Linked DNA regions of Homo sapiens. The protein of the gene in region 1 interacts with the protein of each later gene in a pairwise test. Each region holds a gene or a part of one and is shown on either strand. Other genes may lie near its edges. The genes, in order: ECE1 and MYOC.

Evidence for each region.
Region 2: the proteins of ECE1 (region 1) and MYOC interact in a two-hybrid assay, tested with the Homo sapiens proteins (one study listed by BioGRID).

The regions. Positions count from the first base shown.
Region 1 is NC_000001.11:21,252,260-21,256,072, reverse strand, and holds part of ECE1 (endothelin-converting enzyme 1), read left to right. Parts: coding exon 1-126; intron 127-3,813. UniProt on the Homo sapiens protein: Converts big endothelin-1 to endothelin-1.
Region 2 is NC_000001.11:171,642,418-171,646,230, reverse strand, and holds part of MYOC (myocilin precursor), read left to right. Parts: intron 1-3,813. UniProt on the Homo sapiens protein: Secreted glycoprotein regulating the activation of different signaling pathways in adjacent cells to control different processes including cell adhesion, cell-matrix adhesion, cytoskeleton organization and cell migration.

The DNA.
Region 1 (3,813 bases):
GCCATCCGGCCCCAGATGCAGCAGATCTTGGACTTTGAGACGGCACTGGCCAACATCACCATCCCACAGGAGAAGCGCCGTGATGAGGAGCTCATCTACCACAAAGTGACGGCAGCCGAGCTGCAGGTAACTTGAGCGCCGGCTGCTAGGGAGGCTGGGATGGCCTCCAGGTTTCAGACAGGGCCCTGGACTGGGGGCTTTTATACTCATTTCATCTAGTCCTTGAAACTATGTGACAAAGGAAGGATGGTTGTTATGCCCAGTCCACAGATGGAAAAACTGATGCTCAGAAAGGTCAAGTTACCTGCTGAAGGGCACACAGCTAGTAAGTGACTCCAAAATAGGCGCCTGGCCGACACCAGGCTGCTTCTCTGTAATTAATAGTGTTTACTTGGAGGCTCGGGGTCATGACCACACCAGCTTACATTGACAGCGCCTTTCCAGTCTCTCCAGCACCAAGCACATCGAACTTGGTTACAGTGAGCACTTAATAAATGCATGGTGTGGATTCTGTCATTACTTTTCCCTTTTCTGAGCCAGATCAAGGTCCGGAGGCTCCTAAGTGGCAGAGGAGCCAGCCGCAGATGGGCTCACTGTACAACAGGGCGTTAGATCTGTGATGCTCTCTGTCACCCATTGGAGAAGCCCAACGTCCAAGGGCTCAGCCTCTGCCAAAGGCTGCCCTCTGGTGGCTGCTTGGTTCTTGAGGGTCCAGAGAGAATAGCTTGCTGGTTCCTTCTTTCCAGAGCATCAGCTGGCATTGCAGAGGGATCAGCAGAATGGCCACCACCGATCTTGCCGTTTCTTGACATCACCCAGGAATGCGTGGCCAGGCCTTGCTTCTCTGCTGAGGAGGGGCTCCCGCAGAGTGTCATCTCCCTCCTTCCTTACCTTGTGACCAGCCGAATTTGACCTGTTGTCCGTTCCTTCTACTTTCAGGAAGAACACTAGGTCCCTGCCCTTTACCCTCCTCCAGCTGACAGGTGTATATGGGTCCGTCTTGGGACCTTGCGCTTCATGTGCTTCCTGGCTAGTGGGGGACACCAGCTAGAAACAACCCTGTCTCATTGCTGAGTGCTTTGGGCAAAAGCAGCGGGCCCTGGGAGCCAGGGGTGGGGAGAAGTCAGGGAAGGTGAGTCTAACGATAGATGAGCATTTCCAGGCCAACTGGGTGTCCCAGGCGGAGATGCAGGCCGTGCTAGGGCCCACGATCAGGGTCAGGGGAGCCTGGCCTCCTGCTGGTGCTGGCTGCCCTTCAGCTCCCAGAGAAACTGGCCTGAGGCTCAGTGGTGCTGCTCAGACCAGGATGGAGATCAACAGCTGCTGTTAGATACCATCTGGCACTCTTTTCCTGCTCTGAGGCCAGGAGGCTGAGGGTGATGTTGTTTGTGCATTATAATTTGGTTTGTTCCAGCCGATTTCTCAGCCTGAGGGGCCCCCGCAGTGCCTCAGCCCCCTACCGTGGCCATGATGCCAACTGTCTGTGCCAGGAATAGCGGAGAAGGCACAGGAGCCCTGAGCACATCAGCCCAGCATGGCCACCAGGTTCCCCCCAGGCATCCTATCACCACTGCTTCTGCTCTCTTCTTCCAAGCAGAGGAAGAAAGGCTTTTCCTGCCTCCCAGCTGCACAGCTGCCAAGGTGGGGGGAGTTTAGCAGACTCAGCAGCTTGTAGTACACAAGCCCTGGGCTTAGATTCAGAGGACTGTAAGCCCCTTGGAGCTCTAAGTGCTGGGATTATAAGCATGAGCCACCACGCCTGGCCAAACAGCCTCTGTGTTCTAAGTACCCAAAGTTCAATTAAGATCTTTAGGAAATATATGGATTCTCTCGAGTTTTTACAGATATTTCTGATTAAATTCTAATGTGAATTTGGCTGCCTTCCTTGTAAAATGGGCTTGGCTCGTTCACTCACCCCAGCTGTGTGCCAGAACACAAATGAGACATAGCCCTTGCCCTCACAAGGGACTGTGGTTCCTCTTTTTTTTTTTTTTTTTTTTTTTTGAGACAAAGTCTTGCTCTGTCGCCCAGGATGGAGTGCAGTGGCATGATCTCAGCTTACTGCAACCTCTGCCTCCCAGGTTCAAGCGATTCTCCTGCCTCAGCCTCCTGAGTAGCTGGAATTACAGGCAGGCACCACCACGCCCGGCTAATTTTTGTATTTTTAGTAGAGTCGGGGTTTCACCATGTTGGTCAGGCTGGTCTCGAACTCCTGACCTCATAATCCACCCGCCTCGGCGTCCCAAAGTGCTGGGATTACAGGCATGAGCCACCGCACCTGGCCTGTGGTTCTTTTTTTTTTTTTAATTTGAGACAGAGTCTCGCGCTCTCGCCCAGGCTGGAGTGCAGTGGCGCCATCTCGGCTCTCTGCAAGCTCCACCTCCTGGGTTCACGCCATTCTCCCACCTCAGCCTCCCGAGTAGCTGGGACTACAGGCACCCGCCACCACGCCCGGCTAATTTTTTTGTATTTTTAGTAGAGACCGGGTTTCACCGTGTTAGCCAGGATGGTCTCGATCTCCTGTCTTCGTGAGTTGCCCGCCTCGGCCTCCCAGAGTGTTGGGATTACAGGCGTGAGCCACCGCGCCCGGCCTGTGGTTCTTAACTTTAAGTCACAGAGTCCTTTGAGAACAGATCAAAAACCATGGACTATCTCCCAGAATAAATGGGTATATATGCATATTTTTAAAATTATGTCTGACATTTAAAGACGTCCTGGCCGGGCATGGTGGCTCAGGCCTGTAATTCCAGCACTTTGGGAGGCCGAGGCAGGTGGATCACCTGAGGTCAGGAGTTCAAGACCAGCCTGACCAATATGGTAAAACCCCGTCTCTACTAAAAATACAAAAATTAGCCGGGTGTGGTGGTGTGCGCCGGTTGTCCCAGCTACTCGGTAGGCTGAGGCAGGAGAATCACTTGAACCCAGGAGGCGGAGGTTGCATTGAGCCAAGATCACACCACTGCACTCCAGCTTGGGTGACAGAGCGAGACTCCGTCTCAAAAAAATAAAATAAAATAAAATAAAATAAAATAAAATAATAAAGAAGTCCTGGCCCCCTGAAGCCTGTGTTCTAAGTAAGAATCTCTTCCTGGCCTGCCACACAGGGTTGTTGGAGAATAAGTTGAGGTAAAGGATGAGAGTTCATTCAGTAAACTCATTTGCACAACCCAGTACAAGCATAACATATTATATTCATCATTATTGTTACTATTCCTTTGTTATTAGCGATGTCACCCAGGAACCCAGCACTAAATCAATTTGATTCATTCTACTCTGGGACAGAGAATGTCTTGTTCCCTGGTGTCTGGAAATGGGGTTTTCTTCCCATACTCCAGGTAACTTAGGGAAAAGCACGCCAGGTTTCACAGTGTGGTTCTAGGCTAGCCCTGCTGGGGTACAGAATGCTTCCAGGCTAGTCCCCAGCAGAGTCTGAACTCAGAGCTGTGAATCAGACACTCTTCCATTACTTCTGGGGGCCTGAGGACCTTCCCCTTCCTTTCTAGGACCCTCACGCCAAAGGCTGTTTGGGCCTGAGCCCCATTTTCTACCCCATTTCTCCAGCTGAGATGAAGCTCAGAAGCATTCTTCTCTTCTCTCCCAGTTTCAAACCTATTTGAATTGGTTGGTTTGTGACCCACAGTACTCCTTGGCTGCAGGTGTGGAAAATGGAGCTCACTGGTGTGCCCCAGAGGGTGTGAGTCACAAGTGGAATGTCCTAGTCAGTTAAAACAGCCGTCTCCATGGAGATGGAGCTAGGCACATGTGTTTAAGATAGGAGTTCACTAAAGCAGCCAGGATGGAAAATGTGAAAAT
Region 2 (3,813 bases), about 150 Mb from region 1:
GGGACATGGCAGAGCTGAACTAGGAGCTATGACTTCCGGCTTAGGTCCAGGCCCCTTTACGAGATTGTTTCCCTGCCTTTGGGTTTTGCATCCTCTATTCTGGGCTTCCACCCGCATGCCAGATGGCTCTATTCCTGGAGTCTGACCATTGCCAGATGCTCCTGGCTGACATGACCTAGAAGAAGCCAGCAGGCTCATAACTTAACCATCGCCCCTGCCAAATGGGAACTGGCCTTGCCGTCATCCTGGAAGCCATTCCCTGACATTTTGTTTTATTGCAGTTCATGTTTATTCCAGCTAATGCACATAAGGAGTGGTTCCTGCAAGGCACAATCTGAAGGGCTCCTTGCTCAGAGCCGTAAGGGCCATGGTGGGATTCAGCAGGGAACTTGGCACCAGCCAGGCACTTTTGCTGCCTCTTCTTTGCCAGTGAGGGTAGAAGAACTGATAAGAGGATTGAGTGCACAGCCCAGGAGCTGAGAGTTTACAAGGCAACCCACTGGGACCTGAGCTCAGCCCCAGGAGTGGGTCACCCCACAAAGTGCTGAGCAGCATCTTTGAGACTCTTCTGAAGCCTCCAGTAGCCATCTGGGTCCAGTCGGGAGATAGAAATCACACAGTGGGTTAAGCTGGGGAAGTTTACTTTAAAGAATTACTAACCGTGATGAAAGAGCAACTATAGATAGACGTGAACTCCATAGGCACCTAGGGCTGAGGGAGGGTGCCGGACAAGCTTGGAAGGGGAAGGTGAGGTTCAGCACATCAGCTTGCAGAGAAGGTGGCTAAGGTGTGCAGGCCTCAGCTGGTCTGCAGCTGCAATAGGCCGCCTCCCAGTGCAGGTGAGGAGGGCAACCTGCAACGTGTGGCAAGGGCATGGTGGGAGTCAGGGCAGGCACAGGCAGGAGGCCTCCAGAGCACTGAGGTCCGTGTGCAGGGACTCTGGGTTCCTTGTTGGGAGGGCTGTGGAAAGGTTATGGCCAGGCTGTGGCTGTGAGGTCACAGAAGAACTTCGCTCTGGGTCCGTGGCTGGGGTAGGACTCCAACAAATGTCCTCACAGTCATACCACCTATGGACGCAGGACAGGAAAACTGCAGACCTTTTTCCTCCCACGATGTCCCTCCAGCGCCCTCTACTGAGATAGTTCAACATCGCGCTCACTTCAAAGCTCTTGTTCTTCAGACAGCATACATGGGAGGGTGCATTCAGCTCTGAGAGGCAATGCGTTTATAACTGACACACCTCCTCAGCACAGGATGGAAGAGTTCGCAGCTGCCATGGCCTCGGAAGACATGGGTTCAAGTCCCAGCGATACCACTTAGCTGTGTGACCTTGGGCATGTTACTTAACCTCTCTGAACCTCGGTTTCCTCATTTGCAAAAGGGGATATTAATGTTCACTTTCAGGACCATTATTTGAAAGTAGTGAGTAGCAAGCACCCAGCACAGTACTGGCTCATAAGAGACACTTAATAAGTAGTAGCGATAGTTCAACTTTATCAGGCGCTATCTGCAGTCCTAAAGCCTTTCTCTATTTCTCTGAAACTTTGAAGGCACCAGATCACATTTAAAAATTACATAAAAATTACTTGAAATGGGCAAAGAGCTATAAATGCCGACAAACCATCTTGTTTCACAAAAAAAAAAAAAAAAAAAGCTGTTTTTTAGAGTTGCAAAGCCAGTACATACTTTAGCTATCCACAAGGAAGTCATCTGTGAAAATGCCTGACTTTTTTGGGTTTCACTTTCTTCCTTCCCTCTATAGCAAAAGGGGCATTTCTTTCTTAATTTTCTCCCCACTGACTGGTAGGTAGGTACCCCTACTTTTCTTAGTATACATCTTTTCTCGGTAAGTTGTTAAATTAAATAACCAGCATAAAATACATCATTTTGTATGTGTAAAGGGGCCAGATGCAGGGGAGGGATGGCTCGCCTGAATTTAATATTTTTTTAAAAACCTAAAAAAAAAAGCCCTAAAAATGTTAACGATCTGTCACAATATAGCCCTTAATATTTTCATAATCTCTTTTTGGTTTTCTTCCACATTCAGAATGAAATGTTAGTGATTTTGAAACATTCCAGAGAAATTTTAGTATTGACACATTTATTAAGGGACCCTCCCATGGCAACTGTGGATGGCATAGCTGAAGTGTAGGGACAAGGTTGGGGCAGTCCTCCAGACTTTGTGTACAGATGGCATGCAGTATTTCTCTCTCCTCACATTGCCTGAAACCAACTCCTTTTTTTTTTTTTTTTTTTTTTTTTGAGACAGAGTCTCTCTGTCACCCAGGCTGGAGTCCAATGGCACAATCTCAGCTCACTGCAACCTTTGCCTCCCAGGTTCAAACGATTCTCCTGACTTAGCCTCCCTAGTTGCTGAGATTACAGGCATGTGCCACTATGCCCGGCTAATTTTTGTATTTTTAGTAGAGACAGGGTTTCAGCATGTTGGTCAGGCTGGTCTCGAACTCCTGACCTCATGATCCACCCACCTCAGCCTCCCAAAGTGCTGGAATTACAGGCGTGAGCCACCATGCCCAGCAACTCTTATATTCTGAGAGTTGAGACAATGAAAGAAAAGAAATTTGAGTTGTCCTGAGGCAGAGTCTGCAGTGATCCAAGAAGAGGTACAGATGAAAGGAAACCAGCTCAATTCAAGGAACTTGCTTAATGCCCTGATTTTGAAAAATTGTCCTGGCAAGACTTTGCCACATCGAATGAGCCTCTGCACATTGCAGGAGGCTGGCAGGGCCAGGGAGCGGTGGGCTGCTCCTAACAGCCTGGGTGTGTGTTCTGGGCCTAAGAGAGAAGGCATGGCAATCGGCGAGGCAGCATCAGAGAGGAAGGTTACAGATGGTTCTGCCACCTGTGTACAGGAAGGCGGTCACTCTCTCTTACCTCTCCCTGGCAGCACAGAAGAACAGGGAACCTCGGGCACCCTGTCCCTCTCCCCCATAGGCAGCACCAAGTCCCTGCCGGAGGTGTGTGTTGCCTGCACAGGGGGAGAAGGGAAGCAGCTGGTACTGGTCTCAGGTCGATCTAAGGAAACTCCATTTGACCTAGTGAATCAGTCCCTGCCCTGGATACCCTCCTAGGCCAATGCAACCTTTAGAATGAAGAACAAAGGGGTTTCCTCACCCCTGCACAACCTCAGATAGGGAGAAGGAGACGCAGGGAATGAAATAAAAGTTTCCAGGACTCTCCAGGAGCCATTCAGATTGTCCAAGAAACTGGTTTCCGCAGCAGCCTGGAATAAACCCATTTTCCTTCTCGGGTATGAGGACTTTGCCAGATTATGATTTCCTTAAGGGCATGGACTGATTGTGTCTTTTTTTTTTTTTTTTTAAACATAGACTAGCCTATTAGACAAACTTGTGTCTTAGACACCTTTTTTTCTTGAGCACCTAGCACAGCCTTGCACTCAATAGGTGCTCCAATGATGTGACTAAAAGGATGGATAAATAGCTCTGTGGATTTGAGGCTAGGAATAATGAAGGCCTGCCATGTCCCGGGGGGTACTCCCAATTGCCCCTGGAGTTTGGAATGCACATTGAGGATGTCCTCAGTTACATATACATTTTGGCTTATGAGTCTTTCTTTTTTTAATTTTTTTTTTTTTTAAGACAGGGTCTCACTCTGTCACCCAGACTGGAGTGCAGTGGCATGATCATGGCTCACTGCAGCCTTGCCCTCTTGGACTCAAGAGTCATCTTCCTGCCTCAGCCTCCCGAGTAGCTGAGACCACAGACTGCACCACCACACCCAGCTAACTCTTTAATTTTTTGTAAAGATGGGGTCTCGCTATGTTGCCCAGCC